3 linked regions of the Homo sapiens genome follow. The protein of the gene in region 3 purifies or fractionates together with the protein of the main gene of each other region. This does not show direct contact. Each region holds a gene or a part of one and is shown on either strand. Other genes may lie near its edges. The genes, in order: NAPG, STX18 and VAMP4.

Region 1 (3,656 bases), on a different chromosome or scaffold from region 3:
ATGTTTTACTCAGCTCTAAAAAGACACAGCCTGGCTCCCCACCCTCAGGAACACCAATTCTACCATTCAGATGGAAAAACAAAGCCCAACAATGCTGCTCCCCAGATGCCTCATGACCATGGTGGGACAGGTACACAACTAGTAAAAGTTTCAATTATAAATTTTTTTTAATTAAAACTTTAGAAATATATATATTTTCAAAACCTATGTAAGACGTTATTTAGAAAAAAAATTATCTACATATATCATTATAATAAACAACTGAAGGCCTTAAGTTGATCTGATACTATGATGATACTCTAAAGGCCTAAGGCCAAACAGGTACTTACAAATCTACTGAAAAAGACAAATGAGAAAAAATAAAAACTTATAGTCATGGTTCACTTTATGTGCAAGACATCATGTGAGGATATTTCTCACACACTGACTAATGTATTCTTCACAACAGTCCAGCAAGACAGGTACTAGTGGCTTCATTTTTACAAATGAATTAACTGAGGCTTAGAGATAATTAATGACCTGCAACACACAGCTAGTCCTCACAGATTTTCATAGGTCTACTGAATTACAAAGGCCACTACAGAATGGACCTCTTTCAGAGAGTCCGTCTAAAAGAAATGAATAAAAGCAACCTACAGAGGACAACAGATAGAGGAAAAGTGGAGAAATGAGCCTCAATTTTAAAATATGTATATGGTCAACAGAGTTAGATGGGTGAGTAAATGGCTATACACCACACAACTAACATCTATTTTATCTAAATCTATGGTGAAATTCAATGCAAGTGGTCAGTTTCCTTATGAGTAGTAGCTTGAGAAGAAAAAAAGAGGTAGGAAAAAATCTCTTAAGTACATGGGTAAAAAATAATCTCACTAGAAACCTCTTTCTTTCAAGAGAAAAGATGAAAGCTATGCAAATGGGTCCACTTACATCATTGTCCATGTACTTGAAAAGCGGTGAGTTGCAGACATCTGACACCTGATCTTGGTCTTGCTGGTCATAACCTTCAAGAAGCTGTTCCAGGGCAGCACAGTCTTCACTGCCATTGAACCCAGGGATGCTGCAGTAAGCACAAATCACACGTCTTCACCTTCTCCTTAAAAGAACACATCTCAGGCAGGGATGATTCTGCCCCTGGCATGTGACACTGTCTGGAGACATTTTGGTACTTAAAAGTGTGGGAATGCTAGTGGCATCTAGAGGGCAGAGACCGGGGATCCCGCTAACCAGCCTACAGTGCACAGGACAGGCCCGACCACAAAGAATTATCCAGCCCAAATGTTAACAGTGTTGAGATTAAGACTGCTCATGTTAAACACCGAGAAAATTCCTCATTTTGATTTCTGTAACATAAATCTGATAATTTTTTCCCCCTTTTTCTTGTTCTTTTTTTCTTAGAAGGCAAATAAAATGACTAAAATGACTAAAGTCATTCACTTCCATGGAGGTCCCCTAGAGAAAAATACAGGAAAGGGAAAAAAAAAAAAGGTGTAAAACACCCACTGTAAAAGATGAAATGGTAGATGAGCACTCCTAAGATTTAGAAATGACAGTTTCATGGCCAGGAACATGTGTCCTAGCAGCAATCTTAGTTGTAGACACAGAGGTGTCGCCACTGCAAGTCAAGAGGGCCCAGACAACGTCTTACCTATAGCTCTCCCGGACACATCTTTCTGCAGCTACATAGTCATTTCTGTGTAGATGAACTAAGACTTGAGCAATTGTTTTCTAAAACAAAAGAGAGGATCATGGTCAAATTTACATCTGTTTAATAAAGTCAATAACCTGGCAGTATTGAAAACACCTGGAGTTTAACTTTCAGAGTCTTTGTTTGTATAAACAGAGATTTATAAATGCTATAGTAACTTCCACGGGACACCTGAGGGGAAATATCCTAGAACAGTACTTTTCCAATTCTCATGTCCTGGAATTTGGCTGCTAGGGGCAAGCCTGGGATTCACCCATTTCTAACAAATTCCAGGGGGCACTCCTGCTGCTGGTCTGGGGACCGCACTTTGACACAAGCCTTAGATCACAACCACGTTTTAAAGAGATCTCTTTCAAATATCTACACAGATTCAATCTTGAAAAGTGAATAAAAAAGAAGTGGGGGGGACCCGTAACACCACAATGATACTTAGAATCCTTAAAAAGAAACTAGGAAAAAGATGTATGAGTGAAAACTTCAGATAACAGAAACAATGATAGTATTGATAAGTCAACAATAAAAGTAGTAATAAGATCAAGGATATGACTGATAAATTACTGGAAAAATAGGTCTTCATGAAGTATTTTTCCATCTTTTGGTGTCTCTATTGTTTAGGTAACTTTTACTGATCTATCTTTAAGTTCACAAAGTCTTCCTTCTGTCATCTCTGAGATTAAGCTTATCCAATTATTTTACTTCAATAATGTATTTGCCAGTCCTAAAATTCCCAATTAGTTCATTTTTATAGTTTCTATAAAAATAATTTTTCCTATAAAAAACAACAGGTCCTCTTTTCTATTCATTTTAATTGTGTTTATCTTTACCTCATGGAGCAACTTATAGTTGCTTCAGTCTTTATGTGATAATGCCAACAACCCTGGTCACTGCCGGGTTGCCATCAGTTGTCTTTTCTCCTGAAAACTGGTCATATTTCCAGGTTCTTGCATGTTGAGTAATTCTGGATTGTACTGTGAATGTGATGCTGCACAGCCTCTGCTTAATTTTCAGGAGAGTACAGATGTTTTCAGCAGGTAATCACCCCAGTTAGGTTCAGACTACATGTGGTGCCTTGTTTTTGGTGGATGGAAGTTCTACACTTAATTCAAATCCTTTGCTATGTGGCTTTGGGCCTGTTCCATGCATAAGCCCTTCAGAGGGCAGTGCAACACTTCGACAGTGATGAAATCTTAGCTCTCCAAGCTTTGCGCTGCACTGCTACTTTGAGGCCTGTCTCAGCACAGCTGAAGAGTAAACCCAAGACTTGTGTGGGCCACATCCACACTCAGGGGACTCCGTTTCCAGCTCTCTCCTTTCCGGAATTTTCTCCTTGCTCTCTAGCTCATTTTCCTAGTTCCTCTGGCAAAAGAGACTGGGGTCCTTGTGGAGTTTTATCAACCTGAGCCATCATCACAGTGTAGCTCCATGCCTGGGACAAGCTTGGAGCAAAGCCAAAGGAGAGGAAAACAATGGGACCTCTTCTCCCATTGCTGGTTAGAAAGGCGGGGTTTCTTTTGGAGTTTTCATTGTTGCAGCCTTTGCTGCCCAGCTCCACAACTGTGGGCTTCTCTCAGGGCAGGGCAATGAATGCTGCAAGAGGAAATGGAAAAAAACCCGAGAAACTCATTCCCATGGTGGTTGTTTCTCCACGTGTTTGCTCCTCTCCTTAGTCTCTTTTTATTTACTTTTCAGAGTTCAAGGGTGGTTGCTTTTGTATTTTATCCAGTAGTTTAGCTGTAATCAGCAGAGAAACAAGCTGTAGTGGGCTTACTCTATCTTGGTCAAAAATAGAGGCCCATGAAGTATTATTTTACAAAAACATAGAAATACCCATAGAATCCTTTCTTAAGTACTTATTCATACCAGTATAAAAAATCATCTAATGTAATACCAAAAACAAACACTTTCAAAGAATACCTTATAACAAGTTGGATAATTCTCAATTTCCTTA
Region 2 (3,656 bases), on a different chromosome or scaffold from region 3:
ATAAACTGGTGGTAAGAGCAATACATACTGATATTTAAAAATTTCCAAAATACATTGTTTTCTACAATACTGTTATGTAACCCCTCTCTACTCCCCCAAGGAAGAGGGGAGGGCATATGGAGAGGGATTACATAACCGTATTGTAGAAGAATCTTGATTTTATTTAACAGAAAAAATGTTTGGAAAGTTAAACACCAGAATTTTAACTATGGCTATTTCCTGACACTGGTACTAAATGTGAACTATTTTCTTCTTTATTCTGTTTAATGAGCACTTACTAATTTTATAATCAGATTTTAAAATAGTCAACTTCAAAAATGTGCCCTGCTAATAAAATTCCATTATAAAATTATATCACCACTTTTAAATCAAATACATTTGTGAAAACACACCAAAAATGCTAACTTTGAAAACAACAACAACAACAACAAACCAAAACAAAAAAAAAACCTCACTCTTTCAGAGACTCAGGGAAAATATCACAAGGTAATGGGCAGTTATCACTGCAAAAAGTATTTAAAAATACATCCTGGGACTTTCAGATAAAGAGTACTGAGTCATGCAACCATCTCATTGAAAAGGTCCTTATGGATTATCTAGTCAAAACCTCTCATTAAAAAAATCAGAAGAGTGACACCCAGAGAGGTTAGGTGAGTTCTCCAAGATCACATAGTAAGCTATTGGCAAAGGCCAAAAGTATTTACAATTCGAAACGTACACTTTTTAATTCCTTTCTCAATTCCTCTGAGTTAAGATATGCTGTAGCCTGTTACTTCTGCTAAGACTATAGAATTCACTGCTGGAGAAAATGTCCAAGAAAAGGCAAGTGTTCATTTCACCAGAGTTTTCTTATCATTTGACTACAAATTAGATAGAAATGTTACAATATTGTGAAATGGAAGTGTCTCTCTCTTGGTTAAATACAGCTTACAAATTCCATGGTAAGAACATTTTGACAAACAGACATATGTTAGATGGTGATAAGTAGAAGCTGGCAAACTTTAGTATTCATAGTCTTTGAGGATCTGAAAGTCTGTAACAAAGAAAAAAGTATTGCCGGGTTTAAAATTTCAACTGTGCTGCAAGCTTTCCATATCTGAGTTATTGGGTTCATTCAATATATCATACTTTCATTCCTCTGGTTTATTCACTTTCTTTTAGAGGAGTTTTGAAGTTGCCTCTTTTTAAGTCAATATTAAATGTAATACGCTTTAAACATAAAATGGTTTTCATACCATAAGCCATAATTAACATGTGTAGACTTCACTGATACTTTACCCACCAGAGGGAGTCCATGTGGATTTCCATGTAGTAAGAGACGTCAAACATCAAGTTTACATGAATTCAACAACCACATTATTCATAATACAATCAATATTATAAAATCACTCAATAATATATTTCTATCCCCTGAAAAAGAGAAAAATTAAATGAGATCGGGCACATAAAGTCCTTAACCGAGTTCCTGACCTATAGCAGAAGCTCAAAAATGACTGAGTTTCCAAAATCTGTATTCTTCTGCACATTAGTTACAGTGCTTACAACAAATTAACTGGTATTCTGACTTACACACAAGTTGACGTGAGCTTGGCTGATATCTGCCCTAACAGATGGCTCTAGCCTCAATATGTAGAAAAATCTGGTTCTTGGGCCTCCAAAATGAAGCCAGCCCCTGATGGGAAGAATTCACTAAAAACGTCACACTGAGAAGACGTGTTTCTGCAGCCCTACCCTAGTAGGTGAGACACATAATAATTGGTCAACTGCCAACTCAAAAGTGAGGAAAGAGGGAACTCTTTGACACACTCCAGATTCTTCATGGAATGCAGGAGAAAATGAATCAACTATCCCTGAGAATCATGCTTCTACAACATGTGATATAATCATTAACCCCAAGATGAGTTTCATTCAAGAATAAAGAAAGCAGAACTGAGAATAACAGGAGAGAACCTGGCATCCACACGGGCCATCCTAAGTTTCTACCTCCTTGTACTTCTCGCCACCATAAGTCCCAGCCTAGTGATGGCCGTATTGCTGAGACAGGTCTCAATCTCCATGCAACTGGCTGGGCATAGGTACATAGGCACTGGGTATCTATTTTGTACTCAACTGTCTCCAAGGTCTAAATGTGGCAAAGCTGAAGGACCCCATTGAGTTCCTCAATCCAGGTTTATCAGTAAGCACTGCTGCTGGGGAGTTATCCACCACATGCTGTCTTAATAAAACTCCAGTGTCCATGGGCTCCTTGGATCTATTCTCTACTATTTAGAATTAAGAAGAAGGCATGAATAACTGGCACTCAACTCTAACCCTGAAAACTCTGTTATTGTAATCTTCTACCATTTAACTTTTCAACCAGAAAGCTGGAAATTATTCTACCTCCTCCTCTTTCTATTTCCACTAATTAGTTACTAAGTTTTACTAAGTTTGTTGAGCCTACCTACTAAATACTAAATACCTACTTCATCTATTTTTCTCCCATCCAACCCTACTGTCACCGGCTCCTCAGTTTCACCTGAATTACTGCAACAGCATCCTGCTTAGCTCTCCATGTCAGTCTTGTTACATTCCAAACCCATCATCAACACTGCGGATTAGTTTAAAATACAAACATGATCCTTTCGTGCCTCTGCCGCATAGCCCAGAGCATAAAGTACAAACTCCTCAGCACTGCTAACAACGCTCTCATCTAAGAGTTGGCAAACTTTTTCTCTAAAGGGTCATACAGTAAATATTTTAAGTTTTGCAGGCCTCTGCAGGCTATCGCTCTGCTGCTACAGCATGAAAGCATTCTTGGCCTATATTTAAACAAATGAAAATGACATATTCCAATAAAACTTTATTTACACAACTAGGCAGTGGGCCGGATTTGGCCTGTGGGCCAGTTTGTGGACCCCTGCTCTAACCTACTTCAGTACAACCTCACCCCCTGACACTCTGACCCTCACCCGGGCCTCCTCCAGAAAAGGGCTCTAGTCACACCAGTCTTGCCTCTGGCCCCAAACTGCCCTACTGTTGTGTGCCACTGCCTTTGCTCACACCCATCCCTTCTACCTACGTCTGGTGGAATGGTTTTTCTCCTTAAAAGCCAAGTTTGATGATCACTTTGAGGTTTCCACTGATTCTCCCCTAAAGAGATTTAGGTATCCTTTATCTATCTTTTCAAAGAACAGGTTAATATGCCTCATAGTTTTTTTATGGCCCCACAATGCCTGACACACCAGATGTTCAGTGTTTATTGGATGATGGTATAAATCAATTATTGAATAAATACATTTCAAAACTTACAGTCCTCCTAAGTCTTGGGCAAAATTCAGAAGTGTAATCCACACAAAGGACTCACAATCTCATGAAAACTCTGCAGTGCTGAGCTCTCCTTATAGTACACACTCAGTTATTGCAATCCATAAAAACACAGCATCATGAAGCTAAAACAGGCCCTGGAGAGCATTAAAGCAGTGGTTTTTAAACTGTGTGTCTCTGGGCCCTCTGGTTGGTTCCTAGGGGTTCCTCAAGGAGAGGGGGAAGGTAACAGAAGGGTAGTAGGCTGGCGAATGAACCTCTCTCCCCAAACCTCTCACTCCAGCTTTTACCAAAGCTGCTCCTTATTTCATTAGCTAAAAGGTTCCTGCCATATTTAAAAAGAAATCTATATG
Region 3 (3,656 bases):
GCTCACCTAAGAAGTGCCTGAACTCCTGACCCAAGGAAACTGTGAGATGATAAATGTGTGTTGTTTTAAGCTGCTAAGTTTATGGTAATTTGTTACATGGCAATAGAAAACTAATACACCCAGTCTAGTACCTGTAATCATTTATTGGTTCTTTGGTTCCATATCTCAAAATCCATTAGTTAGAATTAGGCTAAGTATGGAAATATTTCTTCACACCAACAGCTACCTGAGTAAAGCCCAAGTATCTCACCAATAACTAGATACTTCATTATAGAACCCTTCCCACAATGTGCCATCTATACCCAGGCTTAGGGTAGTGACTATTATCCCTCCTTAGGTCTTGAACCTGGGCCATGCAGTTCACATTCCACAGTTAGTCTTTACAGCTTGGTCAGTTTCCAGAGCCTTCCCTCAAGTGACTCACTGCTCTGTCTATTCCTTCTCCCCTCCAGTCAGGACTCATATCTTTCCGATATCAGACACATTGATTACAGCATATTATACTCATCTATCACCAAATAATATATACCTCAAAGGTTTTAAACCACAAATTAGCCATAAAACTTAGTTCAATATATGGGTTATGATAAATAAGAGATATGAAAAAATTCTGGAAGTAGATAAAAACATGCAGTACATCAACAAATTAAAGCTATTATATTACCTTTGTTATCATTCTGAAAATAGGAATCAAGCTACAGATTTAAAACCAAAATAGACCTTCAGACTATGCTAAATAAATGGATTTGACATAAGGTAATCAAGTCATAAAAAAACCAACAATCCTGCATTTCCTTAGCTATAATTCTGAGAAAATAAAATGAATTAGGTTTTTATAACCCAGCAGTTATATTTAGTCTTCATCAGGGGTCAACAACTTTTTCTGTAAAGGACCAGACACTCAGCAGATATTTTAGATTTTGTGGGCCATAAAATGTGACACAGCTTTGTCACAACTACTCAACTTTGCCATTGTAGCTTGAAAGTACCTATCGATAATATGAAAACAAATGGGCATGGCTATGTTCCAATAAAACTTTATTTACAAAAACAGGCTGCAGCCAGATTTGGCTCACAGGCTGCAGTTTGCCAATCTCTAGTCTACACAGAAATATGATTATCATTTAAACAAATGAACAAAACTTACTGCTTAATTTTATCATTTCTAGGTCCAAATCTTGGTCCAGATGGTCCCCTTCTGAAAACAAGTACATACCAAGTACATATTAGTAGTGACAGGATTAAAACAAAACAAAAAAAAGATAGAAAGTATACACAAATACAAACAATCAAGCTGAACTCTAAACATGGATCAGTTATTTATCATAAGGGACCACATTTTACTGATACTGGTGAAACTGAATAATAGGTAATCATGTCTTTACTTCATTGGCACTTATTACTAGCCACAATTAAGCTAATTCTTCTGCATGTTAAAACTTTCAGAGAAATTAGGGTTTATATTATCTTATATAACAAACTTACACAGAATTTGTTCTGATCATTAAACTCTGAAATATCCTAACTACTTAACTGCTAGTGAATATTAATATCTTTATGGTCAACTGTAGAACTAAAAGCGCAATTCATCTTGAATTTAGACTATAATGAAATGAGGAAACTACAAAGTGAACTGCCGATTGACAAAGATGGATATAGAGAAAAATTCATTGAAGACACTAACAATTTTAAGTATGTTTTTGATTATTCATCTTAAACTTATCAACATAGCAAAAGGGAAATGCAAGATATTAAGAAAATTTTAACATTACTCAGATTATTATCTCCTTATTGTAGTTGAGTGTATATCACACCTTAACCAATCCATTTTAATATTCTTGAAATGAAAACATTTGGTTATTTAAAGTAATCATGATTCTTCCGGAGATACAGAATAAATAAGACATAAACTACAAAACTCAAAAGAAACCAGGTTCTTAGATTTCTAGACATGGCAATTTCTAAAGGAGGTGAAAAAATACAGCAATTGATAAAAAAATTTTGGAAAAAAAAACTGTTTACTGAAACTTATTTAACATAATGTATAAGTGTGAATATATCATCTTGCCTTAGTTCCTCTAAGCTTTTTCCTTAAAGTCTTTTAAGCTCCAACTAAGCCTCAGAATACTGGAACAGTATTCCATTCCAAAGTGATGTTAAACATTGAATTTCATAGAGAAAACTAATATTCTGAACCAGAGGCCATTCCTAAAAACTAGGCAAGAACTTACAAGAGCTGGTCAACCGAAAAACAAAGAAAAGCAGTCATTAAATGAGGAAACTATAAAGTGAAATAGAATCTGAAAAGTACTGAATTAAAATGATCCCCACTACAGGTTAAAAAAAAAGCAGGAGCTATGTCTGTTTCATCTATCAAGTAACATGAGACTTCAAAATACTTATAGAAAAACACAAAATGAAAAGCTGGTTCTTTGAAAATTAAAACTTGATAAACTTCTAGCCAGACTGATTAGGAAAAAAAGAAAGAAGGCATAAATTAGTAACAGGAATGGAAGAGTGAACATCACTACAGACAAATGTACCATGGTTATATAAGATTTATTAACAGAAGCTAAGTGAAGCGTAGATAGGAACTCTCTATACTATCTATGCAACCCTTCTGTGGGTCTAAAATTATTTTTAAAAAATCCCCCAAAGAAAATTCCAGGACTAGATTTGTTCAGTTGTCAATTCTACCAAACATTTAATGAAGAAAAAATAAGAATTCTATGCAAACTATTCTGGAAAACTAAAAAAGACAGAACTTTCCCAACTCATTATCCAGGGCCAGTATGAACCTACCACGAAAACCAGATAAAGACACAACAAGAAAAAGACATAACTATCAACCAACCAATACCTCTAATGAACATAGATGCAAAAATTCTTAACAAACTCTTAACAAATTGATTCTAACAATGTTTTAAAAGAATAATACATGATGACCAAGTAGGGTTCATATCACAAATGCAACGACGGTTTAAAATTTCAAAATCAACATAATTCAACACATTCACAGACCAAAAAAAATGATCATCTCAATAGATACAAAATAAATGCTTGACAAAATCCAACGTCAGCTAATGATAAAAACTCTTCACAAACTAGGAATAGGAGGAAACTTCTTCAACCTGATAAATCTACACACAACAACAGTAACAACATGCAATGAAAATGAAACATAATATGAAAGATGAATGCTTCCCCTAAAGGAGATCAGGAACAAAGCAAGGATATTCCCTCTCACCACCTCTACTCAATATTGTGCTGGATGTTCTAATCAGAGCAATAAGCTAATAAAAAATAAAAGGCAAACATAGACGAGGAGGAAATAAAACTGTCTTTATTTGCAGAAAGCATAATTGTTCTATGTTGAAAATCCAGTAGGATATATAAAAACACTACTAAAACTAAGTGGGTTTGGCAAGATTGTAGAATACAAGGTTAATTTACAAAATGATATTTATACTAGCAATAAGTATGACATTTTAAAATTTTGAAACACCATCTGAAATGTCATTTTTAGTAGCATCAGAAATTATGAAAATCAATGTGCAAAAATCACAAGCATTCCTATACACCAATAACAGACAAACAGAAAGCCAAATCATGAGTGAACTCCCATTCACAATTGCTTCAAAGAGAATAAAATACCT

Evidence for each region.
Region 1: the proteins of VAMP4 (region 3) and NAPG purify together in Homo sapiens (affinity purification with mass spectrometry; 3 studies listed by BioGRID and IntAct, with this or other methods). This does not show direct contact.
Region 2: the proteins of VAMP4 (region 3) and STX18 purify together in Homo sapiens (affinity purification with mass spectrometry; 3 studies listed by BioGRID and IntAct, with this or other methods). This does not show direct contact.

The regions. Positions count from the first base shown.
Region 1 is NC_000018.10:10,546,371-10,550,026, reverse strand, and holds part of NAPG (gamma-soluble NSF attachment protein), read right to left. Parts: coding exon 3,623-3,656; intron 1,729-3,622; coding exon 1,649-1,728; intron 1,061-1,648; coding exon 931-1,060; intron 1-930. UniProt on the Homo sapiens protein: Required for vesicular transport between the endoplasmic reticulum and the Golgi apparatus.
Region 2 is NC_000004.12:4,532,035-4,535,690, forward strand, and holds part of STX18 (syntaxin-18), read right to left. Parts: intron 1-3,656. UniProt on the Homo sapiens protein: Syntaxin that may be involved in targeting and fusion of Golgi-derived retrograde transport vesicles with the ER.
Region 3 is NC_000001.11:171,718,024-171,721,679, forward strand, and holds part of VAMP4 (vesicle-associated membrane protein 4), read right to left. Parts: intron 1,199-3,656; coding exon 1,148-1,198; intron 1-1,147. UniProt on the Homo sapiens protein: Involved in the pathway that functions to remove an inhibitor (probably synaptotagmin-4) of calcium-triggered exocytosis during the maturation of secretory granules.